Linked DNA regions of Homo sapiens: all the other regions are linked to region 3. Evidence: fine-mapped expression QTL. A gene starts in region 3. Each other region holds a variant in brackets. All regions are shown on one strand. Distances are from middle to middle.

Region 1 (8,108 bases), 46 kb after region 3:
GGGTGGGCTGGAAAACTCTTGAGTCTTTGTGGTGCACAGGTGTTGTCCGTGGCTTTGGAACCATTGTGCAAAGCAGCCACTTTCAAACTCTTTGTAGACGCCTTTAAAAATAAACACACATCACTTTCCTGCAATTGCCTAGCCAATACTGCCGCAGAGCATACTCAGCTTGACTCTGGCAAAAGGCTAAAATATTGCCACCCTGAGTCCTTGTGTTTCAGAGTTACTAGTCCTTGCCATAGTTAATATTACAACTGGACAAACATTGTTTTTGGTACTTTTGCATTTCACTGTGTCCTTCACAAGGAGACATTGCTGAGAGATATCCGTTTGTGAAGAATTGGTGAGCCACTGCTGTCTCTTCCCCCCTGCAACCGCAGCTCTCCACCTAATATTAAAGGATGGAGATTGGAGGAGACATGGCAGTTCCTTGATAGAAAAGGTCTATCAAAAAAGGGGATTTTGTGTATTATATTTATTTTATCATGCATGTGAGCCACAGTGCATACCGTTGCTTTTGGTTCTTTTGCCCTTTTCATTGACTGCTACAATATATATAGCGGGTACTCCAAAAGTCAAAAGCTACATACTTTTTGTATAAAAAAATCCAAAGTTGTATTATGGCTTACACGTAACCCATGATTAAAATATAAGTACATATAGGAACAGCAGCCAGCAACAACAGTGATGATTAAATCAAGAGCCTCAATTTTAGACAAGTATAATTTCTTTGCGCCATTGAATTAGGTGGTCCAAATAGCTTTGTGGCTCTTTTAAAGTAAGTAATTTATACTTACTCCATCTGACATGCATTCATATCTTTTCTTTTTTTTTTAAAGAGAGACAGCGACTCATTCTGTCACCCAAGCTGGAGTGCAGTGGTGGGATCATAGCTCACTGTACCTTCCAATTCCTGGGCTCAAACAGTCCTCCCACCTCAGTCTCCTGAGCAAACAGGACTACAGGCACACACCCCCTTGTTGGCTAATTTCTTTTTTTTAAAATTTTTTGTAGAGATGGGGTCTCACTTTGTTGCCCAGGCTGGTCTTGAATTCCTGGCCTCAAGCATCCTCCTGCCTTGGCCTCCCAAAGTGCTGGGATTACAGGCATGAGCCACCATGCCCAGCCATATTCATACTCTTGAATACTCTCAAAAAATTATTTTCCTTATTGGATAAGAAAAACGATTAAGCAGTGCATCTGCTTTTAAAGGATTATTGTTTACAAAGGTGTAATTATTGAATGGTCATCTAGTAAAACACCAAACACTAATATGTGCAAAACCCCTAGCAATACAGTTGTCACTGCTGGGACTTGTGGAAGGTGTCTCTGTCAGGGTTAGGCCTTTTATTGGCAGCATAAAGGCCTAGAGTGCCTCCAAAACACCCACTCTGTTACATTTGTTTAGAATATACTTAAGTGCAGATTCCAGAATTAAAGAGAAGAAAGTCAGTTTATTATGAGTAGAGATTAAATATAATAATGAAGAAGCAAGATGTAGATTCATAAAAAGGCATTGTTACGTAGTAGAAAGAAGGCAGACTTTGGGATTCAAACATTTCTAGGTTTGTTACCCCAGTTCTCGTTATTGTGGGTCAGATGAATTCCTTAATCCCTCAGAGAAAGTTTCCTTTATACAATTAAAATAATACTACCTGCCTAACACATTGTAAGGATCGATAATTAAAGCACCTAGCATCTAATTAGTGTTGTTAATTTCAGCACTATTGCTCAGCAAGTATATTTCCTGATGTTTCCTTCCAAAATGTCTATTAGAGGACTCAAGTTCAAACCATGTTGATGAGTTTGAAGATAATCTGCTGATTGAATCAGATGTGATAGATATAACTAAATATAGAGAAGAAACTCCACCAAGGAGCAGATGTAACCAGGCGACCACATTGGATAATCAGAATATTAAAAAGGCAATTGAGGTTCAAATTCAGAAACCCCAAGAGGGACGATCTACAGCATGTCAAAGACAGCAGGTATTTTGTGATGAAGAGTTGCTAAGTGAAACCAAGAATACTTCATCTGATTCTCTAACAAAGTTCAATAAAGGGAATGTGTTTTTATTGGATGCCACAAAAGAAGGAAATGTCGGCCGCTTCCTTAATGTGAGTATAAGGGCTGAGATTCCTATTTCTGAACAACTGTTTTTTTCTATGCTACTTAACAAAATTATGAGGAAAATAAACAGACTCTAAAGTCAGACCATCTGGTTAGAATTCCAGTCCTCCACTTGTATACAGTTGGATGTTTTACTTGACCTCTGATACCTCATTTTCTACCTCTGTAATACAGGGATAAATGATAACTGTCTCAGGATGTTATGAGAATCTAATGAATTAACATTAAGTGCTTAGAACAGTGCCTAGCACATAGTAAACATTTGCTTTTAAAAAACTGTAAGAAATGGTGTATAAGAAAAGTATTTAAATATATCAGATTTAAATAAGCTCACTTACCTGAGTTGAAAAAAATGTATGGCTAGGAAGTTATCAGTGAAGTTAAATGGTGGCAGATATGTCCAAAGAATACTGCAGGGATTTAATGGTGTATTAATATGGAAAGATTGCCACAATATACTGGTTTTTTGGTTTTTATTTTTTGTTTTTTTTGAGACAGAGTCTCACTTTGTCACCAGTGGCACAATCTCAGCTCACTGCAACCTCCGCTTCTGGGGTTCAAGCAATTCTCATGCCTCGGCCTCCTGAGTAGCTGAGATTACAGGCGTTAATGAATCACATGATGAATGTGTGGAGATGGCGGCTAGTGGGCAACAGAGCAATACTGGAATAGTGCTAATATGAGGAAATGGTATCATCTATTTAGAAGCCTCGGAACGACGATACATAATGGCTATCTTCAGCAAAGAAATTTGTTGCTTACAATATCTCCTCTCCAAAAGGCTTGTTTGTTACAGTGATGTAAAAATTAGGTTCTGTACATCTTCATATTAAACTTACTTTGTGAAAACTTTTTGTTTAAAAAAAAAAAAAAAAGCCATACCTTGAGAAGTACTGTGCTCCTGTTCCCATGCCCCGACTCCACCTTCTCTCTGTAGGTCATCATATTTATTCTTTTTTTTTTTTTTTTTTTGAGACCGAGTCTTGCTCTGTCACCAGGCTGGAGTGCAGTGGTGTGATCTCGGCCCACTGCGATCTCCGCCTCCTAGGTTCAAGCGATTCTCCTCATCAGCCTCCTGAGTAGCTGAGATTACA[G/A]GTGTGCACCACCATGCCTGGCTAATTTTTGCATTTTTAGTAGAGACACAATTTCACCATGTTGGTCAGGCTGGTCTTGAACTCCTGACCTCAAGTGATCTGCCTGCCTCGGCCTCCCAAAGTGCTGGGATTACAGGTGTGAGCCACCGCACCTGGCCTTATTTCTCCCGCCCCCCCCCCCTTTTTTTTTTACATAAAACATAGCATATTATATTCACTGTTCTATACTTTGTTTTTCAAATTAACAGTATATTGGGCCAGGCGTGATGTGACTCATGCCTGTAATCCCAGCACTTTGGGAAGCCAAGGCAGGCAGATCACTTGAGGTCAGGAGTTTGAGACCAGCCTGGCCAACACGGCAAAACCCCGTCACTACTAAAAATACAAAAAAAATTAGCCGTGTGTCATGGCACATGCCTATAATCCCAGCTACTTGGGAGGCTGAGGCATGAGAATCACTTGAACCCAGGAGGCGGAGGTTGCAGTGAGCCAGGATCATGCCACTGCACTCCAGCCTGGGCGACAGAGTGAGACTCCGTCTCAAAAAAAAAAAAAAAAAAAAAAATCTTGTGGCAATTCCATATTAATACCCAGAGCTTCTCAAATTGTTTTTATTTGTATGCTTTTGTTTATAGCTGCATAGAATTCTATTGTGTACCAAAGTTTATTTAACCAATCTGCTTTAGGCAAATATTTGGGTTATTTCCAAACCTTTAGCACTAAAAACAATGCTCAATGAATAATTACACATGGAAACATATACAGATGAATCTGTGGAATACAATTCTAGATATGAGATTGCAGAATCAAAAGACAAATGCATTTATAATAATGATAAATATTGACATATTTTATAGGGATTTGTCCCATTTTTGCATTTCTGCCAGCAACATAGAAGAGCGTCAGAACAGGGCTTTTCTGAATGGGTTCCCACTATTAACAGGAGCTGTGATAATTTATACATTGACAAAAAAAGAACAAAATCAGTGTGATATATTAAAAACAGAATGGTTTTCTAATGCAAAAGCACAAGGCATCAGACTTTATGCTATTTCTAACCTTTGTGTTTATTTTTATTTAACAGCATAGTTGTTGCCCAAATCTCTTGGTACAGAATGTTTTTGTAGAAACACACAACAGGAATTTTCCATTGGTGGCATTCTTCACCAACAGGTTTGAAATTGATTTCGCTTACTTAATTCTGAAATTGTGACTTTAAAAATAACAATAGAGGGCTGAGTGCTGTGGCTCATACCTGTAATCCCAGCACTTTGGGAGGCCAAGGTGGGGAGACTGCTTGAGCTCAGGAGTTTAAGACCAGCCAGAGCCACATGGCGAAACCCTGTCTTTACTAAAAAAAATAGAAAAAGTTCACCAGGTTTGGTGGCCAGCTACTCAGGAAGCTGGGGTAGGAGGATCACTTGAGCCCAAGAGGTAGAGTTTGCACCCTGTCTCAAAAAATGATAATTATAATAGAAAAATATTTTTTAAAGATATATACTATAGCCCCAAATATCTGGTACTGTAGAATATTCAATTATCCTAAACTGTTCCTATTCAATAAGATTTTGCACACCTGAAATTTTGACTCTTATTCCCATTTAGAATGAATGCCTGAAAGGGCTGAAGATATCAGGTATCACCCAGTTCCACTCGGGATAAATGATGCAGAGTGCTACATAATCTTTAATTCAGAGCTATTCCCCAGCTACTTCCACACTGCAGGCCTCAACACATGACTGGGTCCCACTGTTGGCAAAATACACTTCTTCCTCATATTGATAGGTTCCTTCTTACTTAACATTTTAGTAGATTTGAAATAAAACTCAAATGGTTATTCTTAATAAAAGGTCATTCCTAATTGGTGGATGTTGGGTGAGAGAACAGATCATATTTTTGAGGATGGTTAATGTTAATATGAAAATTGATATAATTTGGTTCATTGGTAGTTATTTAGGGTATTTTATGATTCTTTTCAAATTTCTACTTTCTAGGTATGTGAAAGCAAGAACAGAGCTAACATGGGATTATGGCTATGAAGCTGGGACTGTGCCTGAGAAGGAAATCTTCTGCCAATGTGGGGTTAATAAATGTAGAAAAAAAATATTATAAATATGTAACTAACGCCTGTTTGTGAAATTAGCTTATCAGGCTGAAATTAAAGCCATGCAAAAGAAGGTCTAGGTCCATCAAGGAAATTCCCCTCCGTTTTCCTTTGTCATGGGGTTTATGTTTTATTTCAGATTTTATTTGTGTGACTTAGAAATTCCAGGAACACAATTAGGATATTTTCATACACATAGGGTATCTTGTTCACTGCTGTGCTACTTTACATGAGTAGGATGGAAGTGTATATTTTATATGAAATACCACTGTACAATTTATAATTTATTTACAAATTATATATTAAGAGAAACAAATGTCATAACAGAACTCAGCTGTTTCTAATTGCTTTTGTGACTGTTACCTTTTAGTTCATGCCCCCCCAAAGAGCTAAATTTCACATTTTTACCTACAAAATTGATTTTTAATTCCTGGCAAATAATTTACCATTATGAGCTACAAGGTGGGCAACAGCGCCTGAGGATCTAATTTTATGCATATTACTCCCAAGTATTTTAACACTTGTTGGAGAAGCAATATCTGGATCGATAAAACACTGTCCCATCAACCATTTGAGTGGGGAGAGGGAGAAGCTCTTCTGTAAGTAAGATTCTGGCAAGCTCTTTGAAATGAGTCTTCTTTCCCACAGATTTTCTCTACTCTTTCTATACAAACAGATAGGAGAAGAGGGAATAGAAACCTGGAGGAACTTGAATATTTTTGTTCTAGATAGAGATACAGTTACTGAAAAGGAAACCTAGAAAGTAGTCACACGTTGCTTATTTAGGCCAGAAGTAATTGTACTGGGCAAAAATTTCACTTAAAAAACACAAGAAGTCCAGGTATGGTGGCTCAGACCTGTAATCCCAGCACTTTGAGAGGCCGAGGCAGGTGGATTACTTGAGCCTAGGGGTTCAAGACCAGCTTGGGCAACATGTCAAAACCCTGTCTCTACAAAAAATACAAAAATTAGCCTGGCATGATGGCATGTGCCCGTAGTCTCAGCTACTCAGGAGTGAGGTGGGAGGATCATTTGAGCTCAGAAGGTCAAGGCTGCAATGAGACATAATTTCACCATAGTACTTCCAGCCTGGGCAATAGAGCAAGACTCTCTCTCAAAAAAAACAGCACACACACACACACACGAAAACAATTCTGAACTATGAAATCTGAAACAGCCCCTTGGTATCTCCTGGGCATGATTTGCAAATCTTTTTTTTTTACAGAAAAAAGGCAAAGAGTAAGCACTTTGCCATAGGTTACTTGGCCGTGATCATCTATCTAGTGGAAAAGGGGACTGGGAAGCCCAAGCAGACTGGGAAACCAGACAGCTAGGAAAAGGAGCAAAACATAGCCCAGCAACCTACAGATGAAGAAAGTTGAGAAATCCATTTATTCACCATAGAGACGCAGGAATTTCAGGCAATGCACTAAAATGAAATGGGGGAAAAAAGCTTGATCAGTATGGGAACCATTTTTGTGCAAAAGGGAATATTATGGATCAGCCAGTATTTCTTTGAGCTCTGCCTGTGGAGTCCATTTGACCTTTAGAAATATGAGGTATTCTGTCAGTTTTATCTTCTTGGAGAAATTTCTCCTAAAATCTTGATTTGCTTTAGTCTGGACTGGTTCATAGCCATCATCTTCCATCAGTACCCCAGAGATTCACTTTGTCTCTTATGTGGGATCTGTTTCCAGTTAGATGCCATTATTTTCCTTTTCCTTGGTTTACTCTTCCACATATTGGTAAAGCTCTTCCAATAGCTTTTGGAAAGGAAAAATGAAAAGTAAATGTTTTGAATCTCTGTGTGTTTGACAATGTCTTTATTTTACCCTTATACCTGATTGCTGTTTTGGTTGGCAAGGTATAGGATTCTTTAGTGGTCTCCATGCCCAGTTTTGAAGACATCTGCTAGCTTTCAGTGCTGTTGCTGTGGAGTCTGAAAATCTGTCTTCTGGCTTCCAGGGTGACTACTGGAAATTGAATGCCATTCTGTTCCTTCTCTTTTGCATATATAATCCATTTTTATCTCTCTTGAAGCTTATAGGTTTATCTTTGTCTCAATGTTCTGTCCCTGTTAAGAGTCCATTTTCATCCTTTGTACTAGGTGCCTGGTGGGATCATTCCGTCTGAAACTAATGATTTCCCATCTCTTCACTGTTTCTGGAATTCCTGTTTTCCAGATGTTAGACCTCCAGAATTTGATCTCTAATTTTCCTATCTTTTCTCTTAACTTTCAGCTCTGTCTTCTTGCTAGGACCTTTTCCTAGGAGCATTTCTCAATTTAATCTTCCAGTTCATCTGTTGCATTTTATTTTTCTAGTCTCATATTGTCTCATATTTTTAATTTCTAAGAGCTCCCCTTCTCCGAATATTCTTTTTTTTTAATAGCATCCTATTTTGGCTCATGGTTGCAGTATTTTATCTCCTTGAAGATGTTTGTGTGTTTATGTATGTATATGCACACACGTATACATACACATACAGGCATGCATCTCTGTATTCTTTCGGCATAATCTGTGTCCTCCAGGGTTTGTTTCTTTGTTTCCCCTGTATGTTTGTTTTGGTCGTTCACATTATAGGCTTTCCTCAGAGTTAATGGTCTTGGTAGTCTACTCATATTTAAGTGTGGAACACCAAAAAGCTTACTATAAGCTGAGAGTGTGGTAAAGGGCTCTTTGTTTTACTATGACCTACCTGAGCTATCTTGCTGGGGAACACCCTAATGTCAGTCTCTTTATAAAGGGCCTTTCATTTTGGCCTGGCAAGAAATACTCTTT
Region 2 (8,108 bases), 25 kb after region 3:
TTAAAAAAAAAAAAAAAATGTGGAGTCTAGTTAATGTGTAACATCTCAACACAGAAGTCAGAAAGCAATGGTCATGCACCAAAGAAAAAACAATCATGTTACATGAGTCCTCTTTCAGGGCTTAACTTTTCCCTTTGGCATAATAAATTTGGAAGGTCCTAAATTTTTATTTTCTTTTTACATAGCTCTCTTCAACTATCAGACTTTTATTTATTCATTTATTTTAGAGAGAGGGTCTTCCTCTGTCGCTCAGGCTGGAGTGCAGTGGTGCAAGTATAGCTCACTACAGCCTACGGTTCCTGGGCTTAAGCAGTGTTTCCACCTCAGTTCCTAAATAGCTAGAACTACAGGCATGCGCCACCATGCCTGGCTAACTTTTTTTTTTTTTTTTTTTTCTGTCGTAGAGACAGGGCCTTGTTCTGTTGCTCAGGGGGGCCTTAAACTCCTGGCCTCAAGTAATCTTCCCACTTTATCCTTCCAAAGTGATGGGATTACAGGGATGAACCTTGTGCTTGGCTCAGCTATCAGATTTTAAACCTTTCTTTACTTGGAAAATTAAAGACAGATATTTGTTTTTCAGTTAGCCAAGGAGCAACCTTGAAATACAATATCCTTTTATTAAACTTCTTTTGAGGGGGAAAGTAAGTTATAATTTTTTTATTAGAAAATAAATATACTGGGCCAGGCATGGTGGCTCATACCTGTAATCCCAGCCCTTTGGGAGGCCCAGGTGCACGGATCACTTGAGGTCAGGAGTTCGAGATCAGCCTGGCCAACATAAAATCCTGTCTCTACTAAAACTACAAAAATTAGCCCAGCATGGTTTTGCATGCCTGTAATCCCAACTACTGGAGAGGCTGCGGCAGGAGAATCGTTTGAACCTAGGAGGTAGAGGTTGCAGTGAGCCAAGATCATACCACTGCACTCCACCCTGGGCGACAGAGTGAATGAGACTCTGTCTCAAAAAAAAAGAAATGTGAACAACTAGATCAAAAGAGATACCCAGATACTTCATCCCCTCCCTAAAATAGTTGTAGAGCAATAGGAAAACAAAAGGTACATAAATTTTTCATTTTCTGACTTTTATAGAGCCTTTAAGAATTATGTGATTTCTCTATAAAATGCATGCAGAAGTAGGGATACTCAATGTCCACCTTAAAGATTGGTTAAGCTTCAAATCAAGTTCAGGCCAAACTAGAGTTTCTACAGTAGAAATCTTTTCTGTCCTCAGTATTTTATCCTAGTTTATTCATATTTTTGAAAATATTGACACTTAATCTTTTGCCTCAATCTTGAAACCTTACTATGTTTGCAAATTTTAGGGATCCATATGGGCAGACTCTAGTCAATGAACATATTACTTGGGTACTTATAGCAAATGGTTTTTAACTTGGTATATTTGTTGCTCACATTATTTTTTTGTGTAGATCCTATGCCTGTGACTCAGAAGGAACAGGAAAACAAATCCAATGCATTTCCCTCTACATCATGTGAAAACTCCTTTCCAGAAGACTGTACATTTCTGTATGTATATAAATTCTTTGTTATTAATGCTTTTGCTCCTACAGATTTCTTCTTTATAAATCACTTGACATTAGAATAGATGAAATATACAAAAAAATTTTTCCCATTAAAGCTTTAAAAGTTGTATATTTTAGTATTTTATGTAAGATAGAATTTCATGAGTCTCTGAATAGGTTATTGAATATTCCTAGTTAATCAAGTCTTTTTATAAAGTTTAGCTTAAGATGTCTTTGTGTATTTTATTAATACACTGAAATCTACCAAGTAGTGTGTTTTTGTTTTGTTTTGTTTTTTGTTTTACTGCTTAGATTATCTGGAGAATTTAAAAGTGTCAAAATGTTTCTTTCAGTATCAGTTGAGTTTTCAAAATGCGTAACAGCTCTTAAGTAGTGTCTAAAAGTTTATGGGAATAGACTAAATTTTTCTGACCTTCCCTTTCTCATTTTATCATTACTTTCCATAAAGATTCTTTGGCATAAAGGAGATGTGCGGAAGAGTGAATCTAGATACTCTGACACGTAGTCTTTATTTTTAGTAGGTAATACCTGGGCCTAACCCTTCAAGTACTAATTACAGGGAAGTTTCTGAAAGTTCTCTAGAGTAGAGAACATAGTTTCAAAAAACAAAGAAGTATCTTTAGAAAGAAACTTCTTTGTTACCCTAATTTCATTTGTTCTTTCAGCTTAATATTAAATTGACTAAGAAAAACTATATAATTATTTTTTTGATTTTCATGCCTGTGAGAGTTGTAGATAGACACTGTTTCATATAATTTGGATTTACAAATATTAGAGATGTCATTGCAGTTTGAGTGGGTCTCAAAAGGCCCATAAAATTACTTTAAAATGCTCACAGAGAAAGCTAAGTTCACACTTTAGCTCCTTAATTGGCCATTTCAGTGGCTCACAAAACATTTTTTTTTCTAGAAATTCTGACCTTTGAATATACAGTGTAAAATTTTGTAAGTTTTTAGGAACAAATTCACTCAGTCTAAATCTAAATTAAATTTTCATGTAAATTACCACCAAACAAGCTCTCTACCAAACAGTTATCTATATATTTAGATATTATATTTTAAACTTAAATGCAGGAGTGGTTTATTCCTGTGAAGTATCATTTTTTGCTTTAAGTTCATTATACCAGCTTATCAGAATCTTTTTGAATTTTGGAATATTTTTTGTCCCTTTTAGCTTATCATCTTGTACAAATAAATAAGCTTTCTAATCTTCATTATGGTCACTGAAAACAATATTGAACAGGACATGACCAAAGATAAAAACCTTGTGGCTGGCTCACTACTAGACATTCTTTTTATTACGCTTCAGAAAGAACGCTTTAAGCAACTGTGAATTTACTTCTACTGTTGTCCCGCCTACACTTCTCACTTACAAAGTGGTCATGAAAAATCAAGGTTCACTGCCATAGCATTCTGTGGCATTGCCAGACATTATTCAGACTTATTGAAAACGTTGTCAAAAAAGAAAATTCAGTTAATTTGGATTTTTCTCACCTACTTGTTAACTCAGCACCTAGTGTTGGTTGGCCTTTTAAATTCAAAATATTTAGAAGCCACACCCTTGATGCCTTCTTCTAGAGATTTTTAAGAGACCAGTGTTAAGCTAACCTTTCTATATTTTCTGTAGCCTGTCCTCCTTCCCTTTTTAAAAATCAGGGCAGCTAGAACTTGAGGATAAGTGGTCAAAGAAAAAATCAGGGCAGTATTATTTTATTTTTAATTTTTCTATATTTGAAGTTTTTTTTTCCAGACCTTGAGATTTAATTTGTAGAGTCTTCTATATGCTTAAATAAACTTGAGTTCTAGTACCCTCTCTTTAACTGTCACAGACTTCAGTTTCTTTTTATTTTTTTCCTCTTGTTTCCAACTTGAGAGCCATACTTAAAGATGGAAAAGACAAAGGCAGAATTGTTTTTGAGAAACTCTTCCTTCTCTTTGTTATCAGTTAACCTTATTTTTCTCCTAACAGATTATTTTCTTGTTCTAAGCATAGCTTTAGTTGTTTTTTGTTGTTGTTATTTTATTAGCACTTTTGGAAACCTCGGTTCTTACTAGGCTTTGTGATACTTTTCTTACAGTTTCGTACCAATGTTGCGTATTCATAATTAGCTGTCTTCTTTTGTATGTATACTTTTAAAAATCCGAGCTTCCAAGAAAAATTGAGTTGGTTTCTTTAACTGTTTTCCCATCTCTTTAGGACTGTTTATGATTATATAATCAGAATTTCATTTCCTTAATCTCCCATCTCTCTTGTACTGTGTTGACACTCAGAGGCTTTTTTTGAGATTATACCTAACTTTTGAGTTGAGCATTCTGAGATCTTTTCAGATGAAGGGACATGTCTTATTAGGCTTAGGATTTTCTTCCTTTGCCATTAAGAATTCCAAGGAAGCATTTCATTCTTGACTGGAATTATGTTTAAATAATTCCTTTTATATTTCCTCTGCAGGCCAGAAGTTTATTTGCTTATTTTATTTTCAGTACTTAAACCCTCTTAGCAGCCCAGTGGTCACATAGGTTGCCTAGTAAACTAAACATTCAATAACTTAAGCCAGGAATTCTTAGCCCCAGCTAAACTGCTCAAGATTAGGCTGAGCATGGTGGCTCACACCTGTAATCCCAGCACTTCGGGAGGTTGAGGCAGGAGGATCACTTGAGCCCAAAATTTCAAGACTAGCCTGGGCAACATGGCAAAACCCCATCTCTACAAAAAGTAACAAAAATTAGCCGGGCTTGGTGGCACATGCCTGTGGTCCCAGCTACTTGGGAGGCTGAGGTGTATCACCTAAGTCCAGAAGATCAAGGCTGCAGCAAGCCATGATCGCGCCTCCGCACTCTAGCTTGGGTGACAGAGTGAGACCCTATTTC[A/G]AAAAAAGATTATACAAACTATCAACGGCAAACCCCAGGATGAAATCTTGGGTCTAATAGGACACAGGCTTCAGGCTTTTGGTGTTTTTTTGTGGGGTTTTTTTGTTTTCTTTCTTTCTTTCTTTTTTTTTTTTTTTTTTGAGACAGCAGGGTCTCACTGTCTCGCTGGGTGGACTGCAGTGGCACATAGCCACAGCTCACTGTAGGCTTGACGCCCTAAGCTCAAGCGATCCTTCCTCCTCAGACTCTCAAGTAGCTAGGACTACAGGTGCATACCACCACACCTGGCTAATTTTTAACATTTTTTTTTTTTGTAGCGATGTGGTCTCACTATGTTGCCCAGGCAGGTCGTGAACTCCTAGTCTCAAGCAGTCCTCCCTCCTCAGCTTCCCAAAGTGCTGGGATTACAGGCATGAGCCACCACACCCAGCCAGTATTCTATTCTTGAGTTGAACTGAATTTCTACTCCACATAAGTGAGTTATGACATAGGTAAATGTAAAAACAAAAGTATTACTTCAGTGATAATTCTTTTAAAAGGATATTTACTTTTGTGATTTTAGAAGTCTGAATTCCCTTTTTTTTTTTTTTTTTGGTCAAGTATAAACTTTGGTTTGTCAGGAGTACATACCTATTCAAGCTAGCTTAAGTAGTGGAATTTATTAGAAGTGTACGAGGTGTGCAGCTTTGGTTAGCATACTGGGTGACACTGGGCTTGCACCACTGCTTAAAGACACAGGTGTAAATTTAAGCCATTAAATTTTTATGGCTTTTTACATGACATGCACACAAACCCAAAAGATTATTTTTAAAAACATGCACACACATGTACCTACACATACATACACACATATATAAATAAAATAGGTCTTGAAGAACAGAAAATGTAACACAGCAGGCCATGTAAACACTAAAATAGGAACTTAAAAGTCAATACCTAAGGTCAGGGTTGACACAGTCTCAACTCTACTTCTCTCTGTTACCAGTAGGTTTCTTCTCTTCCCACATGACCAAACATAGCTGCCCCAGCTAAACTCTAACCTTCTAGTGCAAGTGTTATCTCATGTGACATATATATATATATATATATATTTTTTTTTTTTTTTAAATAGAGACAGGGTCTAGTCATGTTGCCCAGGCTGATCTTGATCTCCTGGGCTCAATGAATCCTCCCACCTCGGCCTGCCACAGTGCTGGGATTACAGGCATGAGCCACCGCACCCAACCATTTTTTTTAATATCTTAATTTAAATTATTGAAAGAGACAGTATAAAAAGCCCAGTATGTATACAAGACCCAACATCTTTGAGTACACTGAAATTAATATACCTGCCTTTCAGAAGAGGATGACTAAAGAAGGGACTGAGCAAAATACCAGATTTACCTACTGCAGTCTTTAGATGAATACAGTATACATTCTTGTTTTAAAATATGCCCCCTTAATGGTCATAGAGGATAGAATGACTTCTTACTTTAGCCTTGCCAAAAGCTAGATAATCAGTTGGCAGCCTCTAAGCCATGCTCCACTTTGATGTTCAGAGTGACTAACAACACCCTGAACAATTGTCAAATCATATGCAAACTGAGAAATCCTTACCCAGAGGCTGGCAAGCAGGTCCAGACAGCCGTGGACTTCTCCTTCTCACTACTTACTCCTTATCCTGTGTTTACCTCTAGCACTTTTAATCAATGACTGGGTTTACAATACTGTGCATAGAATTGGTTTTATTTCTATTTTTTTTTTCAGTAATGTATCTTCACACCTAAATAAAGTTAACCCTCCTCTCCATAAAATTGGGATGAAATTAGGTTACTTTATACTTAAGACTTGTAAGTTGGGTTTTTTCCTTCTCTTTAGTAAAATGAAGCACAGATAAGAAATTAATCTTTTCTAAGGTTCACACTAGTGTTTTATTTTTATGCTTTTCTCCTCCTCTTCTGTTTTTTTCTCTTCTCCTCCCACTCCTCCCTAACTCTTCTTAAATGTAAAACATGTATTTCTCAGTGTTAATTGCTCAGTAACTAGAGTCTTGTATCTCCTAGTTTTTATTAGTCATAAGGAGAATACTTTTAATCTAGTTTGGCTTTCTTGAAATGTAAATTCCAAATTACAAGTTTTACCAGCATATTTACTATTACAAATTTTAGTCCTAAGTAGTTCTAATTGTATATTGTTCCAGTAGTGGCTAACTTGGAGTTGTATTTGTTGTGTCATATGAGGAAATTATGTAAAGGACATTAAACTACTATTCAAATATTAGTAGTTACTTAAGAACTAAGGATAACCCAGATACTTTCTCTCTCACATATATCCTGAATTAATCCCTTCATATTCCAAGAAAAATTTATTGAGTCATCTACATTAATATTTAATGTTCCCCTTCCTCCAAAGAGCAAAACAGGAACCAAAAAATTCATACCCGAGGCCAGGTGCGGTGGCTCATGCTTGTAATCCTAGTACTTTGGGAGGCCAAGGCAGGCAGATCACTTGAGCTCAGGAGTTTGAGGCTAGCCTGGGCAACATGGTGAGACCCCATCTCTACCAAAAAAGCAAAAAATTAGCTGGGCTTTGTGACGCATGCCTTTCGTCCCAGCTACTCGAGAGGCTGAGGTGGGAGGATTGCATGAGCCCAGGAGGCAGATGTTGTGGGGAACCAAGATTGCACCACTGCACTCCAGCCTGGGTGACAGAGTAAGACCCTGTCTCCAAAAAAAAAAAAAAAAAAAAAATTCATAGGCAAAATGTCAAATGACATTTACAGAATAATATACTACAGAATCCAGTTTGAAACATATTTATTTGGTTAAGTCAAGTTGAAAAGGACAACAGAACAGTTTACTATCTCTATAAATCTGTAAGTGTATAAGTAACTTGAGAGTGAGTAACCTATATCAAAACAAAGAACAAGGCCATGAGAACCTAAGGAATGTATTACAGTGAATTCTGAATGAAAGAAAATAGGGTGTTTTATCTCAGAGAGACAAATAAATAGAAAATCCAGAGTTCAGGTTATACCATAATTCCTTATAAGAAAAAGTGGTAAGAAGGAACTTGACACCTAATAATAGGGAACAAGTAGGTTCCAGGTACCACCTTTGAAAAACAGGAAGATACTGGATACTAAAATAAATCAAGGGCCAGGCATGGTGGCTCACACCTATAACCCCAGCACTTTGGGAGGCCGAGGTGGGTGGATCACTTGAGGTCAAGAGTTTGAGACCAGCCTGGCCCACATGGCAAAACCCTGTCTGTACTAAAAATACAAAAATTAGCTGGATGTGGTGGCACATGCCTGTAATCCCAGCTACTTGGGAGGCTAAGGCACAAGAATTGCTTGAAGCTGGGAAGCAGAGGTTGCAGTGAGCTGAGGTCATGCCACTGCACTCCAGCCTGGGCAATAGATTGAAACTCACTCTCTCTCAAAAAAAAAAGATTTCTAAATAAATTATAGTATATCCTTTTACCTGTTAGACTCTGAAATCCAAAAGCATCAAGATCCACCTGATTGATGAAACTCTGTGAAAACAGGCACTCTCATTTATTGCTGAAGAAACTGACACTATGGAGAACAATTTGGCAATATTAATGAAATAACTAACCCATTTGCCTTGTGACCTAGCACTCCCACTTCTGGGAATATGTTCTGCAACAGTATCTAACAGTATCTTTACGTGTATGAAATTGTTATTAATAGATTCAT
Region 3 (8,108 bases):
CTCTTGCCTGATTGCTCTGGCTAGAACTTCCTACGTATCTCATGTCTGAGCTCTTATTTCTGAATTTATGTGGTTCTTTCAAAGATTTCATCTTTTCCTTAAATTCTCTTAGCTTACTCTGAAATATTTAGATTGTCATTTTCATCTGCTTTGTGGCCACATTTTTGGGGTATGTTTTCATAATCTCGTGCAATGTTTTATGGCTTATTTTGATGATTTTCTTATAATGATTTAGTGTATATATATATATATATATATATTCCCTTTTCCCATATATTTATATAACTATATACTAAAAGGAGGTTCCCGGCTAGGTACAGTGGCTTATGCCTATAATGCTAGCACTTCGGGAAGCCAAAGCAGGAGGATCACTGGAGTCCAGGAGTTTGAGACCAGCCTGGGCAACATAGCAAGATGCCATCTCTCCAAAAAATTAGCCAGGCATGGTGGCACATATCTATAGTCCCAGCTACTCTTGAGGCTGAGGAGGGAGGTTCACTTGAGCCTGGGGGGTCAAGGCTGCAGTAAGCTGTGATCATGCCACTGTATTCCAGCCTGGGCAACATAGCGAGATCCCATCTCTAAAGAAAATAAAAAGGAGGTTCCTATGTTACACTGTATGGACATGCTGGAGTTTAAAAAAATCTATTTCCTAGTGGAATCTGGTTGTTTCCAGTTTTGGCCATTACAAATAAAATCGCTATAAATATTTGCAGAGCAGCCAATATAGGTTTTCATTTCACTTTTCATCAGAGAAGCATACAATCATCAAAGGGGAAATTAAAACCACAATGAGATACCCCATCATACCTCATATAAAGGCTAAATATTTTAACTGATAATGCCAAGTGCTGACAAGGATGAAAAACTACTGGAACTCTCTTATCTTGGTGGTAAATTTCAATCTAGAGTGGGCTTGCCAGATCATGTGATAAGGATATGATTAATTTTATAATAAACTGTCAAATTGTCTTCTAGGTGGCTGTACTATTTGCAGTCTCACCAGCAAGACTAAGGTTTCTCCTTGTTTTGCATCCTTGCCAGGAAATGTATTGTTTGTTTTGACATTCTGAGTAAGAGGTTGTGTAGTATCTCACTGTGGTTTTAATTTGCATTTTTCCAATGACGGTGGTTTTAATTTGCATTTTCCCAATGACTATTCTATACTTCTTTCATTTAACACAAAATGGTAACCACTTTCCTATGTCATTCAACAGCCTATGCCACTACTCTTTGAAAACGTTCCTTTTAAAAGGCTGAAAAATATAATGATGGGATGTGTCATAATTTATAAAACCATTCTTCTACCATTAGATATTTGTTATTTCCAATTTTTCACAAGAACAAAATTACACTGTGATTATAAAGCTTTGATTCTATCTCTATTTCCTTACAAGTTTCTTAGAAAAGGTCAAAAGGTATATGAACTTTTGTTTCTCCATGCATTTTGACAAGCCAACTGGAAGATACAAGTCAAGTGGAAGATACAAGCATGGAATCAAGTAATTAAGAAAAATGATTCTCAGGCCAGGTGCCGTGGCTCACACCTGTAATCCCAGCACTTTGGGAGGTGGAGGCGGGCAGATCATCTAAAGTCAGGAGTTCAAGACCAGCCTGGCCAACATGGTGAAACCCCATCTCTACTAAAAATACAAAAATTAGCTGGGCGTGATGGCCGGTGTCTGTAGTCCCAGCTACTCAGGAGGCTGAGGCAGGAGAATCGCTTGAACCACGGAGGCAGAGTTGCAGTGAGCCGAGATTGCACCATTGCACTCCAGCATAGGCGACAAGAGACTCCATCTCAAAAAAAAAAAAAAAAAAAAAAAAAAAAAAAACATCAATTATTTTGCTGTTTGTTTTGTTTTTTGGTATTCCTGATGCGAGATGTCTTTATCATGTATTGTTGATTAGGTTGTTCATCAGTTAATCTTGAATAACTGAAATCTAAGCTGAAGGCAATAATACATCGGCTTTCTTTTCATGCAAGTCAAACTGCTAAAATCTACCACAAAATATTAGCCTTTCATCAGCTTGGTCTTCAGATCCAATACATTTTCCCCTCAAATGAAAGACAATGCAATGCCATCCACAACAATGCTAAAAAAAAAAAAAAAAAAGGAGGAGGGAAACAAGGTTAAGTCCTGTCTTCTTCCTCCTACCCCAAAAAGAGCTCAGAAATTAAGGTGCTTTCCCTAACAAAGCCTCCTCCTGCTCCATGAAGTGACCAAGCATGTCATGGCAGACCCAGAGATTTATAATCTTCAACATATCGTTATCGGGGAAATCAAGATTTGACAAAATTCTTCCTTCACGCCCCGTTTCTGCAAGACCACCACTTTCTAGCTTAAAATAAAGAAAAAAAAAAGACAGCTGCAGGAATGCTTGGCTGCCCGCTAATGTACAATTTTGCCCAAACGCAGAACTTGACGCCCACTATTACCAAAGGATGGCCTTAGTAAAGTAACCCCCGCGAAGAGCAAACTGTTTAGCAGCCGCTCCCTCGAAAAGGACGGAAGAGGAGGTCTCTTCTGAACCTGAGGATAGTAGAGAGGCACTCCCCTTCCACTACTAGCTTTGCTCCTTTCTCAATCAGGCAGTTCATCAGCTAGCCTCCTTTGTCAAAGGGGGTTGATGGTCAGAATCTTTGCGAGACAAAAATTACTAAAAGAGCTCCCAGGAACCAATGTTAAGGCATCAAAGGCCCCGCCCAGCCCCCACAATGATCAACAAACCAAAACCTGGGATCCCTACTATTACCACCACCACAACCATCACCACCACCACCACCACCATTCCTCGCTCTCTCTAGCCAGGGATGAGACTCAGGCCCAGGAAACCCATCCTTTCCGCAAGTAGGAAGGCGCTGGGTCTCCTCCCTTAGGCCTCTCCTTTACCCCATTGTTCTCTCCGGACCCCTCCACTACGGCCAGGCGCTATGTATGTTTTCAACCCCCAAGAAGCCCAGTCCCAGCCACACACAAGATGGCAGCCTCACACCTACCGGAGGAAACAGCTGCGCCACCACTCCAGTGATGCCGGCCTCTCGACTACGAGTAACTCCATTGGCTCAGCTACAGTGCGCGAGACAAGCCGAGAGCGCTAGCAGTCAATCGGGAGGCGGCGCGCTCGGGCGCCACTGCGGTGCCAGCGGTAAGTGCGCCGAGTCTCTGAGGCGTGAACCAGTGGGGAGTGCGACCAATCAATGGGCTCCTGGCTGGGTGGTGGGACGGCCGGCGTCCGACTCCTCCCATGTAGTGATCGGTTTAGGTAGGTCGGCCTGGTCCCCGGCGGAGGTTACGCCTTCCCTCATCCCCGGTAGAGGCAGGGCGGGACTGTTGTGGTTGAGATGAAGGCTAGTAAATGGTGAAGTACTTCCCGGCCAGAGGGCACCTGCGCTCGGGAGGTTTGGGCGGCTTGGCGTCGGAGGAGAGCCCCACCCGCGGAGGAACCCAGCCTTGCCAACGGAGCTGGCGGAGCTCACTCCTCAGGTCAGGCGGGCGGCGTAGAAAACGCAGCGGAGCCAGGTGAAACCAAGGCACCGCCGTGGCTGGCCCCCGACAGTTCCTCTAGCCGGGAGGTTGGAGGAGCTGAAAACGCCGCGGAGCCCTCGGCCGCCCGAGCAGGGGCTGGACCCCAGCCCTTGCAGCCTCCCTTCTCCTGGCACCCAAGTGCAGTCCTGGCTGCAGAAGGGGCCGCGGGCGCACTGAGTTTCCAACCTCCATTTCAGCCTGTCTGTCTCAGGGTGCAGCCTTAATGAGAGGTGATTCCTAAGCTGCTGGGAACCTGAGGTTGTCAAAGGGGCGGCAGGAAATGGACAGCAGTATAAAACCCAGAAGCAGAACTTGAAGGTTAAACCACTAGCCCATTTCACAGGTAAGATTACACGAGCCCTTAAATACAGCAAGTTCAGTCATTCATCCAAGATCATGGAGTTCAGATTAGATAGTAACACTTCTGACTCGCTATCAGCCACAGCCCAATAAGTAATTAAGTAAGGAAAGATATGTAATTAACTGTGCTCTTTGGCATGTGGAAACCTGCAGTGAGCTCTGTAAATACTAACACATGAGGCCAAGGAGAGGAGTAAATTTGAAGAGGTCAAATGGAGTAACCAAAGCATAGGCTCTGAAACCATGCTGCCTGGTTCCTTATTTCGTGTCTGCCACTTACGGTATGGCATTCCTTAGCTTCCTCATCAGCAAACGAGCTGCTAATTTAACCCACATGACTGTTAGGGGGATTAAATAAGAACACGTGAAGTAGTTAGAAGCGTGACTAACCCGTGGTTCTTAAGCGTGACTTAACCCGTGGTTCTGTCGTTACAATTAAAACGTAAGGAGCCGAGAGGAAATGGTAAACGTGTTTTTAAAGCCTGTTTTAGAAACGAAAAGGAACCATACATTGAAGCAAAGCAGACTGGCTTAATTATTTTTCTACCAAAATGAAAAAGTGAGAAGGGGAAAAAAGTTTTTTAAGCCCATTTACTCTCTGAAATATTAACACCAGTTGTCTCTGGATGATGGGATGGTGTTTAAATTTTCTCCTTTATGCTTTATTGTATTTTGCAGATTTTCTCCAGGAAACATGTTTTACTTGTGCACGTTCAGTTTTCAAATTTTCAGGTGTGAACGCTGGTGAGAGCTGCTTAAAAACAAAGCTATGGGCCGGGCGCGGTGGCTCACACCTGTAATCCCCACACTTTGGGAGGCTGAGGCGGGCGGATCACCTGAGGTCAGGAGTTCAAGACCAGCCTGGCCAACGTGGTGAAACCCCGTCTCCACTAAAAACACAAAAATTAGCCGGGCGTGTGGTGGCGGGCCCCTGTAATCCCAGCTTCTCGGGAGGCTGAGGCAGGAGAATCGCTTGAACCCGGGAGGCAGAGGCTGCAGTGAGCCGAGATCACGCCACTGCACCCTTCTCACTGCACTGGTGACAGAGCGAGACTCCGTCTCAAAAAAAAAAAAAAAATCTATGGCCGTGCGCGGTGGGTGGCTCACATCTATAATCCCAGCACTTTGGCAGATCACTTGAGCCCAGAGTTCAAGACCAACCTGGGCAACATAGACCTCATGTCTAAAAAAAAATAAAACTATTACTGAGTGTGCTTAGGTGGAAGTATAAATTGGTAGAACCTTTCTGGAAGAGAGTTTGACAATATGCTATAAAAAGCTTTAAAATGAATTCCTTTTTGAACATTTATATATACTTAATTTTTAAAAATTAAGTACACTTTTACATTCTTTTACAGAATTGGTACCTTGTAGATAAAGAGCACAATCCAGATTTTGACCTTGAGTTTTTTCTTGCGTGTCAAGGTTATACTTATAAAAACAGTTGAATAGCTTCCCGTATTTTTCCTTCTTGAAAGTTCGTATATGATAAAAATTCTCCGTTCTTTGAAAGTTTTGTACAAGGAATGTTCCCTCACTCCTCTCCCTCCCTACTCCCGCTGGAGACTTTGGTACAGAGCTTTCAAGTGTTTTTTAATACTTACACCTTTTAATACTGTTACATATTCTATATAGGTGAATATATACATTTGTAATTTTTTAGTGGAAAAATACTATACTACATCATTCTGTAGCTTTATTTCTTGACATTGTTTTTGCAGCCTGTACATGTTATTTATAGCTCATTATGTTATTTATGGATCATTTCTTTTACCTGCTGCATAGTGTTCCAGTGTATGACTGAATTGATCTGTTAATATAAAACATTTCTTTGTCTCTTTTATTGGTCTTGTTGTTAAATCCTATTTTGTTTGATGTGTGCTGTATAGCACATTTTATTGCCATTCTCTGAGAACATTAGGTTTCCAGTTTTTCACCATACAACAATGCTGCAAGGAAAATCTTTGTGTTTTCTTGTGCACATGTGCTATTTCTCTAGGATATATACCTAAAAGTGGAATTGCTTGGTTTTAAGTTGTGAGCATTTTTAGTTTTAATAGGTCATGCTAAATTTGCCTCCAAAAATACCTCTACTAATTTACATGTTCCACAGGTAGTTTATGAGAGTTAAGTTTCTCTACAGTTTAGACTAACATGAGATATTATCTTCTTCATTTTTGCCTAGTGATGGCTGCAAATTATATTTTTAATTTTAATTTTCATTCTGTGATCTAAGATTGAAGTGTCTATTATGTTTGTTAACCTATAATTTATATGCATTTCTATAGTTTTTTAAAAACATGTTTAAGTTCTTTATGTGTCCTCGATACTGTATTTTTAGAAGTCTCTTTGGTGTGTATGGTTAATTATGCCTCCTTTTTGTTGCTATTGTTAAAATATGTTAAAAACATTTTCTCTTAGCTTCTTGCTTGGCTTTTGACTTTTTGTTAACTTATTTGTTCTACAGATGGATTTTCCTCTGCCAATCTTTAGGCCTCTTTTTATCTTACTGAATTTCTCTAAGACTTCCAGTACAGTATTGAATAAAAACAGTGATAGCAACTGTCTTCATCTTGTGCCTAATAAAAATTCTCCGAATGTTTCATCATTGAGTATGATGTTTGCTGTCATTGAGTAGGATGTTTTGGTAGATAGCCTCGATCAGAATAAGAAAGTTCTCTTTTTTCCTAATTTGCTAAGGGGCCCCCCCACCTTCCATGGAATAATTTTATATTGAATTGTTTTGTTTTTCTGCATGAAGTGATAGTTTTCCTCCCTTTGCCTGTTAATATAAGCATTCACATTGATAAACTTTTCATGTTAAACTTTTTAGGTATTCTTGGGATAAACTATTTTGGTAATACATTCTTATTCTACTGCTGGATACCTTTATTCAGTATTTTTGTGTCTAAGACCCAGTAGTGATTTGGGCCTTGAGTTTTTTTCTTGCATGTCAAGGTTATACTTATCTCATAAAAAAAAGTTGAGTAGCTTCCCATATTTTTCCTGCTTCAGAACAGTTTGTATATGATAAAAATTAGCCGTTCTCTGAAAGTTTTGTACAATTCATCTGTAAAAGTTTATGGACCTAGTGTACTAGCAGTGAAAAAAATTTCATATCTCATAAAAAAAAATTGAGTAACTGCTTAAGAAAAAGTTGAGTAGCTTCCCATATTTTTCCTGCTTCAGAACAGGTTTGTGTTTGATAAAAATTATCTATTCTTTGAAAGTTTTGTACAATTCATCTGTAAAACTTAATGGACCTAGTGAACTAGCAGTGAGGGGTGGGGATGTGTGGCACACATCTCTAGTAATATCTTCAGTGTTTTGAGCCTATTTGGTAATTTATATTTTCCTAGAAAATTGTTCAGTTCGTCTGTGCTCAGGTTCATTGACATAAAACTGTCTGAATTTTAAAATGTTTAAAATCTCTTCAGTAGCTAGAGATCTATCTTCATTTGTTATTATTTATTTTGTTGCTTTTTTCCCAGCTTCTTTAATTGAATGTTTAAGTCAATATTTTCATTTTGCTAATAAAATTTATTTAAGGCCTAAATATCTCTTGGCATGCTGCTTTGGCAAAATCCTTCAGGCTTTGAAATGTATTACTTCAACCGATCACCATTTCTAAATGTTCTTAAATTTCTCCTTTGATTTCTTCTGTAAACCATATACATTATTTGGGAAATTTGATTTTTTAATTTCCGCAGGTAGTATGGGGTGGGGGGTTGATTTACTACATTCAGTGACTATGCTCTGTGTAAACAGTCTTTTGGAATTTGTTGATAATTCCTTTTGGTCTCATAATAGTTTTTGTAAATTTCATGCTTTTCCTCCCACAAGAAGTATTTTCTGTTGGGTGCAGGGTTCTATATATTTTTTGGATTAAGCTTGTTAATTTGTCATTTAAATCCTTTATACTCTGGTTTTTTACCCACTTTATCTCAGTTCCTTAGATTTGTTACTTCATCACCAAATTGTGGATCTGTGCATTTTCCTTTTAATTTTGCTTTATATATTTCAGAGTGATGTTATTTGTACATAAAGGGTCATGAATATTAAATCTGGTGAATTGTTCTGTCAGCATAAAATATTTGTGTCTTTTATTGATTTTCATATTCAACTCTTATTTGATACGTTTCTTCTTATAATTGCAGATGTCTTTTTCCAGTCTCTTCGTTTTCAGCCTTGCTGTGACATTTTGTGTAATTTAAGTGG
Region 4 (8,099 bases), 70 kb after region 3:
GGAATGGAGTGGCATAATCATAGCTCACTGCAGCCTTGAACTCCTGGGCTTAAGCAATTCTCCCACCTCAGCTTGGACTACAAGCACGTACCACCATACCCAGCTAATTTTTTATTTATCTTTTTGTAGAAATGGGGGTCCCACTATGTTGCTCAGGCTCATCTCGAACTCCTGGCCTCAAGTGATTCTCCTGTCTCAGCCTCCCAAAGTGTTGGGATTAGAGGCGTGAGCTACCGCTCCCAGCCCAATCGTGATGTTTTTATTCTAATATACTGTTGATGTTGATTTGCTACTATTTTTTAGTTAACTTTATTGGCATAATTTACATAAAATCAAATGTACCCATTTTAAGTGTCCAATTCAGAAAGTTTTGAGACATGTTGAGACCCATGCAACCACTACCACCATCAAGATATAAACATTTCCATTACCCCAAAGGGTTTCCTCAATGTTCTGTGCAATCAATTCCTTCCTACCCCAAGTCCCTGTAGATTTGTCTTATCTTTTCTCAGATTTCATATGAAAGGAATCCTATAGTTGTCCTCCTTTGTGTCACTTCCTTTGCTCAGCATACTGTTTTAGATGCATCTATGTTGCATGTATCTGTATCTTGTTCCTTTATCATTCTTCACAGTACTTAATTGGTATGCATGTATCACAATTTGCTTATTCATTCATCTGTTGGTAGACATGTGTTATTTCCAGTTTGGAGCTCTTATGATAAAAATCAGCTATAAGCATCTGTATATGAGTCTTTGTGTCTTTATTTAGGCCTTTCATAATTTCAAAATTGTTCAATGGCTTTTTTTTTTTTTTTTGAGACGGAGTTTCGCTTTTTTTGCCCAGGCTGGAGTGTGATGGCGCGATCTCGGCTCACTGCACCCTCCGCCTCACAGGTTCAAGCAGTTCTCCTGCCTCAGCCTCGCGAGTAGCTGGGATTACAGGCACCTGCCACCATGCCCAGCTAATTTTTTGTATTTTTAGTAGGGATGGGGTTTCACCATGTTGGCCTGACTGGTCTCGATCTCCTGACCTCAGGTGATCCACCTGCCTTGGTCTCCCAAAGTGTTGGGATTACAGGCGTGAGCCACCGCACCCGGCTATTCAGTAATTTTTATCTGTAGAGGTATAGAACTTGGGGTTAGGCATATTCTGGGCTTGTTTTTTGTTTTGTTTTGTTACTTTTTTCTAAAGTATTTTTAAATGAGCTATTATCAGTATATATGAACACTATTGATTTTTATTTATTGGTCTCATCCAGCAACCTTACCAAACTCTTATCAGTTCTAAAAAGTCTCTAGATTTACCTGGATATATTGTATGTGGACAATCCTCATCTTTAAATAAGGACAATTTTAATTTGGGGCACTCAGTCTCCTTTTCTTGTTTGGTTATGTTTGTCTTGGGTAAATAGCTAGAAGTAGAATTACTGAGTCATAAAGTTAGTGTATGTTTAACCTTAAAAGTGATTGCATTATTTTACATTTCTACCAATAATATGTAAGAATTTCATTTGCTCCACATCCTCATCAACACTGGGTCTTGTTATTTTAGGCAGTCTAGTAGATATATATTGCATCTCACTATGGCTTTAATATGCCTAAGGGTTAATGATATTGAGCATCTTCTCATGTGCTCATTTGCCATTCATAAACCTTCTTTCATGAAGTGTCTATTCAAATTTTGTGCCCACTTTTAATTGAATTGTCTTATTATTGAGTTGTAAGTGTTTTCTAAAATCTGGATACAAGTCTTTTGTCAGAGATATGTATTGTGAATATTTTCTCCCAGTCTCTGGCTTGCCTCTTTGTTTTCTTAGCAATGTCTTTCAAAGACAATTTTTATTTTGATGGAATCCAACTTACTTTTTCTTTATGCTTTCTGATTTTTATAAGAAATCTTCGCCTATGCCAATGTCACCAAAATTTACTCTTATGTTTCTCATGCCCTTTTGTTATTTGAGTGTAATATGTGAAACATTGATCTTCAATTCAGATTTGGAGTCTTCTGGTTTCAAGTAGCACATAGAGACTTGAGCCAGCCTAAACATAAAAGAGGGTTTATGATAAGGTTTTGGGGGCATTTCATGTTTCCTAAAGGCAGGCATGCAGGTGGGTGTAAGAAACAGCTAGAAAGCCATTGGGAACCTAGAATGTCCTCTTTCTAGCCCTTGTTTTTCTTTCTTTGCAGACTGACTTGCTCTAACCACGTGGCTTCAGCTATTGCTCAAAGCCCATTCCACACTTTTAGGATAGGGGATCAGACTGACCCAGCTTGGCATCAGGGTTCCACCCAGGTCAATGAGTTATTAGAGGTCAGGATTACAAAGTATAAAACATGCCCGGAAACCAGGGTCATTCCCAGAGAAATGGGATGGCTTATGGTCTGCTCATCCACCCCCAAAGTTGCCACTGTTTTACCCCCAGTCCATTTCCCACTCCTGGTTTGATTTTCCACTTTTGGTATGATTTTCTGACATGTAGCTTTCAATATTACTTTGTGCATACTCTGGATTTTTTTTTCCAATCTGCAGCTGTATTCTTCAGGACTTGTGGAATGTGAGGATCAGGATCCACTTAATCCTGATAGAAGTTTTGATGTGGAATCAGTAAAGAAAGAAATCCAGAGAGGAAGGAAGTTGGTAAGTGTAAATGATGTTATTTCTTATACTGGATGAACAGACCCTCAAGGAATGCATTCCAAAGGAGTCTATTTGACTGATACACCAGGGATAGAGAAGCATCTTGGAGAGCTGGAAGAAGTAGGAACTGTATTGGAAACCTCAATTCAACTTAACATTTAATTTTTTTTTTTTTTTTTTTGAGACGGAGTTTTGCTCTTGTTGCCCAGGCTAGAGTGCAGTGACACGGTCTCAGCTCACTGCAACCTCCGCCTCCTGGGTTCAAGCGATTCTCCTGCCTCAGCCTCCCGAGTAGCTAGGATTACAGGCACGGGCCACCATGCTCGGCAAATTTTTGTATTTTTAGTAGAGACAGGGTTTCACCATGTTGGCCAGGCTGGTCGCGAACTCCTGACCTCAGGTGATCTGCCTGCCTTGGCTTCCCAAAGTGCTGGGATTACAGGTGTGAGCCACCACGCCCGGCCAACATTTAATATTTTAAAATAAACTACCATATACTTCACCAGTAAAGTGATCTGAGTTAGAATGCTTTTGCTGTAAGTAGAAGAAAGCTCAAGTCAAACAGACTTTTACAAAGAGGATACTTACTTTTTCACTTGATCAGAGAAAACACCTGCTTTCCAAGTTGGTTGATTGAGTGGCTTGATAATGTCATCAGGGGCCCAGGTTCTTCCTCTCTGGCCTCCTGTCCCCAACATCAGCTGGTCCCATTGTGGTCATAGGGTGGCCGCAGGCAGCAACTGAAGCATCAGGCTTTCTTGTTCATACCCAGTGAAAGACAAAGGTCATCCATACACATGGAATAAGCCCCCTTCTGAAAGTTTCATTAGGTTGCACCCCTCTTTCTGCACCAACTGCTGGGGGTGGCCATAACTAATCAGGGGTCAGCTCCTCATGGGTCATAAGGGGGCTATTCAAGGAGGAAGAAATGCTGAGAAGTCATTCCACTGGGCTTATTGCAGCGACATCCTCTCAAGGACCCTTCACATCTTAGCAAGCAGGACAGCAAGTGTGAGCACCTCACATTCTGACTACAACCACAGGGTTAATAACCAGGGACAAATGTATAGTTAGTCTTTGCAAGGCATCAGCATCAGCAGCATCCTGTGGTAGGTGTGTTACATACATTGCTCTAGGTAAACTCCCAGCTATAGGTAAAATGATGCCCATTTTAATCGAAGAAATGGAAAGTGCAGGGTGAAAGGCAACAGTCCAGATGGAATTCTGCAAATTATGCTATCTTAGGCAGTGTACACAATACTGTAGTAGGTCCTGAAGCAAGCCATAAAAATGGACTGTGTGTGGCCCGGGCATGGTGCTGCATGCCTCTAATCCCAGCACTTTGGGAAGCCAAGGCAGTTGAGGACTGCTTGAGCCCAGGAATTTGAGACCAACCTGGGCAATATAGTGGGACCCTGTCTTTACCAAAAAAGAAAAAAAAATTAGCCCGACACAGTGGCATATACCTGTAGTCCCAGCTACTTGGGAGGCTGAGGTAGGAGGATTGGGTGAGCCTGGAAAGTCGAGGCTGCAGTGAGCTGTGATCACACCACTGTACTCCAGCCTGGGCAACAGAGTGAGACTCTGTCTCAAATTAAAAAAAAAAAAAAAGAGTGTGTGGATCCTGCTCTCAATGTCTATGCTATTACTAATTAATACTTGGCAAGACTGGCTGCTGACATCATTAGTGCTGACAATGCCACATCCCTAGGATTTTGGGTGTGATGAGATGGGTGAACTGATTAGAAAGTAGCAGACAGACCTCAACTGGAATATTTTTTTGCTCTTCACTAATTGGATTTGAGTGGGGAGACACAGAGTTAAAGAAATCTCTGTGAAATTCTAGTAGCCATCCAGTTATGAAGAGACCCAGGCTGAGAAATGAGGGCAGTTGATTGGAGGCATAATATTTGGGGGAAAGCAGGTACCTGAGGGTTTCTGCGGACCTTGGGATGCAGACTTCCCTACTGGGAAGGCTTTGGGATGGGTTGGAAGTGGAGGATAAAGGAGAGAAGAGAGGAAAGTCACCTGAGGTAATAGTTACCCTCTCACAGCATTTATGGAACTCTTGGACTATGTGGGCAGATACATGGCACACACCCAGGGTGGGGACAGGCCAGTGCTGTGGTATTTTCAGTAAGCTGGGCAAGTACCTTGAGGGTGAGCAGCAGGGGCCCTCAGCAAGCAGGCTCCTCCCTAGGATTCAGACTACCAATCTGACAGAGCCACATGGACATCCAATAGCATTTCAGAGTAAAGTGGCCAAAAAAGTACAGTTCCATCTCCTATACACACACACACACACACACACACACACACACACACACACACACACACATTCTCCATCTAAATCTGCTCATAAAAACAGCACTATCATTATCCATTTGCCCAAGCCAGAAGTCTAAGGACTCTCTTTTCCTCGTCAACCTCCCAGCCCAACACCAAGCCCATGGGCACGAACTCCTAGGTGCATCTTGCATTCATCCACCCACTTCTCTCAGCGTCAGTAATCCACCATAGCGGAGTCACCCATCTTGTTCTCTAAAGCGAGTACTGACACTCGCCCGACTGTCTCTCCTGCCATCCCTACCCCAGCCCGTAGTTCTCCACCCAGCAGCAGCCCAGCAGCCTGAGTGATCTTTCAATAATGTTAATCAGTTTATGTTCCCCGTGCAGAAAGATAAAACCCAACTCCTTACTCTGGCATGTAAGTCCTACGTGACCCAGCCCTTACTTACCCCTTTGATCATCCTGAGACTTCCCTGTGCCCACTTCGCTGCTCCAACAGCACTGGCCATCTGTCTTGTCCTCGCTGTAGCTTGCCAATGGGGAAGCTCATTCTTGCGGCCAAGACCCAAGGCCCTCTGCTTAGAATGTCTTTCCTCCTCCTTTTTGCATCTGGGAGCTCTTACTATTATTCAGATCTCAGCTTCCATATCACCTCCTTAGAGGTGACCCATTTTACTAACTGCCCAGTCTGAAGTAGGGACCCAGTGACACTGTCACTTCACCCTATTTTAATTCGATATAATGTGTATATAACTTTGTGAGACGTTTTAAACTTTGCTTTATTTGATCATTGTACCTTGTCTCCAATAGAATGTAAGCTTCACGTGGACAGGCATCTTTTCTGCTTTGTCCACTACTGTTTTCCCTTATCCTAAAACCATGCCTGCCACATCATAGCTACTGCATGCTAAATAAATACTATATACTCATGTATTTTTAAATGAATAAATGTTTATTAGCCATTTGTATTTTTTCTTCTGTAATTTGCCAGTTACCATTTTTCTGCAGGTTATCAGAATCTTAAAACTTTATCTAGTA[T/C]GCTACAAACATTCTTCTTTCAATCTTTTCCTTGTCTTTTAAATATTTTGAATGCCCTCACTATAAAATGGAAGTTTAAAATTTTTGTATAGTAGGTTCTGTCAGTTTTTGTTTTTGAAACAGATTCTCCGTCTGTCGCCCAGGCTGGAGTGCAATCACAGCTCACCGCAGCCTTGATTTCCTGGCCCCAAGCCATCTTCTGGCTTCAGCCTCCCAAATAGCTGGGACTACAGGAGTGTGCCACTATGCCCCGCTGATTTTTAAAGTTTTTTGTAGAGATGAGGTCTCACTGTGTTGCTCAAGCTGGTCTCGAACTCCTGGGCTCAAGCAATCCTCCTGCCTCAGCCTCCCAAAGTACTAGGATTACAGGCATGGGCCACCATGCCCAGCCTGTCAGAGTTTTCATTTGTGGCTTCTGGGTTTTCTTCCTGCCTTAGACAGCCTTCCTTGCCTCCATACTACGCTTTTTTTCTTTCTCCTATATTTCCTAATCTTTAAGAGTTTTTTGTTTAACATTGTTATCTGGTTCGAGCTTTAATCCATGTACAACTTATTCAGGAGTATATTGTGAGGTAGGGATCTAACTTTATTTTTTTCCTATATACATAGCCAGTTACCCTCCTCCCAAATTAAATGATCGTTCTTGTATGCTCTGATTTGAATTTCCACCGTTATCATAACCTTATTTCTTGCCTATATTTGAATTTCCTTTAACTGTTTCTATGCTTGCTTGTGCCGACCCTGGGCTATGGTGTGAGTGACCTCCTGTTCTGCAAGGCAATTTCACTGTGCCCCCACGTCATTCAGCCAGAGTATCATGCTGATCAGCCTTGGTCCTGGCTGGATTCCCCTAAACCAGTTAGGCTGCTGTGGCCACACACTGCCTAGCCATCATGACACCACTGTCACATATAAAATACCAGATAGATAAATACAAGCCAGGGATCAAATAAATTGAACCAAGAAAAAACTGTTAATAGAGTTGTAGAATTTTTAAAAATTTTTGGCCCTACTACCTAGATTCCCTTACTTTATCTCACATTATCCTCAATGGCAACTCTGTAAGACAGATATTATCACCCACAGCAGGTTCTGAGTCCGAAAGAGAAATCACACCACTCTCCGTGGCACAGCCAGCGACCAATCTCGCCTGTCTCAAAGGGCCCCCTAGTGGGGCCCCTTGCCTGGAGCTGGACAAGTTTGCCCACTCTGCTTTTTAGAAAATTCTTTTTAAAAGACAGAGACTGTTTTTTTGAAACAAAAAGCATTTTTCTGCTTTTAATCAGATCATTACAAAACTGTCTGTCCAAGCATTCCGGTTAGCTGAGGTTTCGCTGAAATTCCCAAATGAGCAGCCAAATATAAGTACTGTACCCTAATGTTTGTAACGGGATGGAATCTTGCTGATGATGCCCAGGATAAAATGCAGGGCTTCTGGAACTTAAATAACATTTAATGATATCTTTGAATTTTAACAAATAACAACAAACAGGTACTTACTCAGTAAAATCTATTCTTCTGTAGAAATGCAAATTTTGTCATAAAAGAGGAGCCACCGTGGGATGTGATTTAAAAAACTGTAACAAGAATTACCACTTTTTCTGTGCCAAGAAGGACGACGCAGTTCCACAGTCTGATGGAGTTCGAGGAATTTATAAGTATTTAATAAAACATTTTTAAAACCACATTTGGGGGATTGGGATAAGGAATGGTTGGATTAAGACAAGGAGACTTTGAAGACTAATTTTATGTAAATGGTTTTCAAATGAGAACAAAGCCAGTTTGGGGGATGCACAGGGGTTATGTGAATTTTGAATTTCAGTGAAAAATCTATATATATATATATATTATTTTAGTCACAATATCTTGAATAATGAGATCAATGTTAGGACAGCATGTTTTTTTAAATATGATTTTTGTGAGCTATGTTACATTCGTAAGATGATTTTTAAAAATTCCATTCAGAGGCTGATGTTTTTCCTGCCAGTGGGCATATATTCCTAATTTTCCCATAGTGTTCCAGGCACTATTTTATTTATTTATTTAATAACCACTTGCTTTATGCCAGGCATAGTTCTAAGTGCTTTACAAATGTTAACTCATTTAATCCTCATAATAGTCAACTGAGGTA

Evidence for each region. PIP is the estimated chance that this variant, and not a neighbour inherited with it, causes the effect. A credible set is the group of variants that fine-mapping cannot tell apart.
Region 1: its variant is the best candidate, but not a certain one, in a credible set for the expression of SETDB2 in cerebellar hemisphere (GTEx, PIP 0.55).
Region 2: its variant is the best candidate, but not a certain one, in a credible set for the expression of SETDB2 in iPS cells (HipSci, PIP 0.82).
Region 4: its variant is the best candidate, but not a certain one, in a credible set for the expression of SETDB2 in whole blood (TOPMed, PIP 0.90).

Annotation. Positions count from the first base shown.
Region 1 is chr13:49,486,514-49,494,621 of GRCh38, forward strand. It overlaps SETDB2-PHF11 (SETDB2-PHF11 readthrough), which reads left to right. Exons shown (of 21, transcript NR_135324.2): 12 at 4,309-4,397. It overlaps SETDB2 (SET domain bifurcated histone lysine methyltransferase 2), which reads left to right. Exons shown (of 14, transcript NM_001160308.3): 12 at 1,777-2,117; 13 at 4,309-4,397; 14 at 5,219-8,108. The coding sequence ends at 5,336. It also overlaps the pseudogene SNRPGP14. Among named protein-coding and RNA genes, the nearest start is that of PHF11, 5.4 kb to the right of the region's middle. The variant G/A (reference allele first, on the strand shown) is at 3,225.
Region 2 is chr13:49,466,437-49,474,544 of GRCh38, forward strand. SETDB2-PHF11 (SETDB2-PHF11 readthrough) reads left to right here. Exons shown (of 21, transcript NR_135324.2): 5 at 1,428-1,524. It overlaps SETDB2 (SET domain bifurcated histone lysine methyltransferase 2), which reads left to right. Exons shown (of 14, transcript NM_001160308.3): 5 at 1,428-1,524. Among named protein-coding and RNA genes, the nearest start is that of PHF11, 25 kb to the right of the region's middle. The variant A/G (reference allele first, on the strand shown) is at 4,409.
Region 3 is chr13:49,440,985-49,449,092 of GRCh38, forward strand. It overlaps SETDB2 (SET domain bifurcated histone lysine methyltransferase 2), which reads left to right and starts at 3,290. Exons shown (of 14, transcript NM_001160308.3): 1 at 3,290-3,873. It overlaps CAB39L (calcium binding protein 39 like), which reads right to left and starts at 3,080. Exons shown (of 11, transcript NM_001079670.3): 1 at 3,002-3,080. It overlaps SETDB2-PHF11 (SETDB2-PHF11 readthrough), which reads left to right and starts at 3,290. Exons shown (of 21, transcript NR_135324.2): 1 at 3,290-3,873. RefSeq lists enhancers at 2,458-2,527, 2,897-3,669, 2,908-2,987, 3,670-4,443 and silencers at 2,996-3,476, 3,148-3,197.
Region 4 is chr13:49,510,526-49,518,624 of GRCh38, forward strand. SETDB2-PHF11 (SETDB2-PHF11 readthrough) reads left to right here. Exons shown (of 21, transcript NR_135324.2): 13 at 2,534-2,641; 14 at 7,493-7,626. It overlaps PHF11 (PHD finger protein 11), which reads left to right. Exons shown (of 10, transcript NM_001040443.3): 3 at 2,534-2,641; 4 at 7,493-7,626. Among named protein-coding and RNA genes, the nearest start is that of PHF11, 19 kb to the left of the region's middle. The variant T/C (reference allele first, on the strand shown) is at 5,969.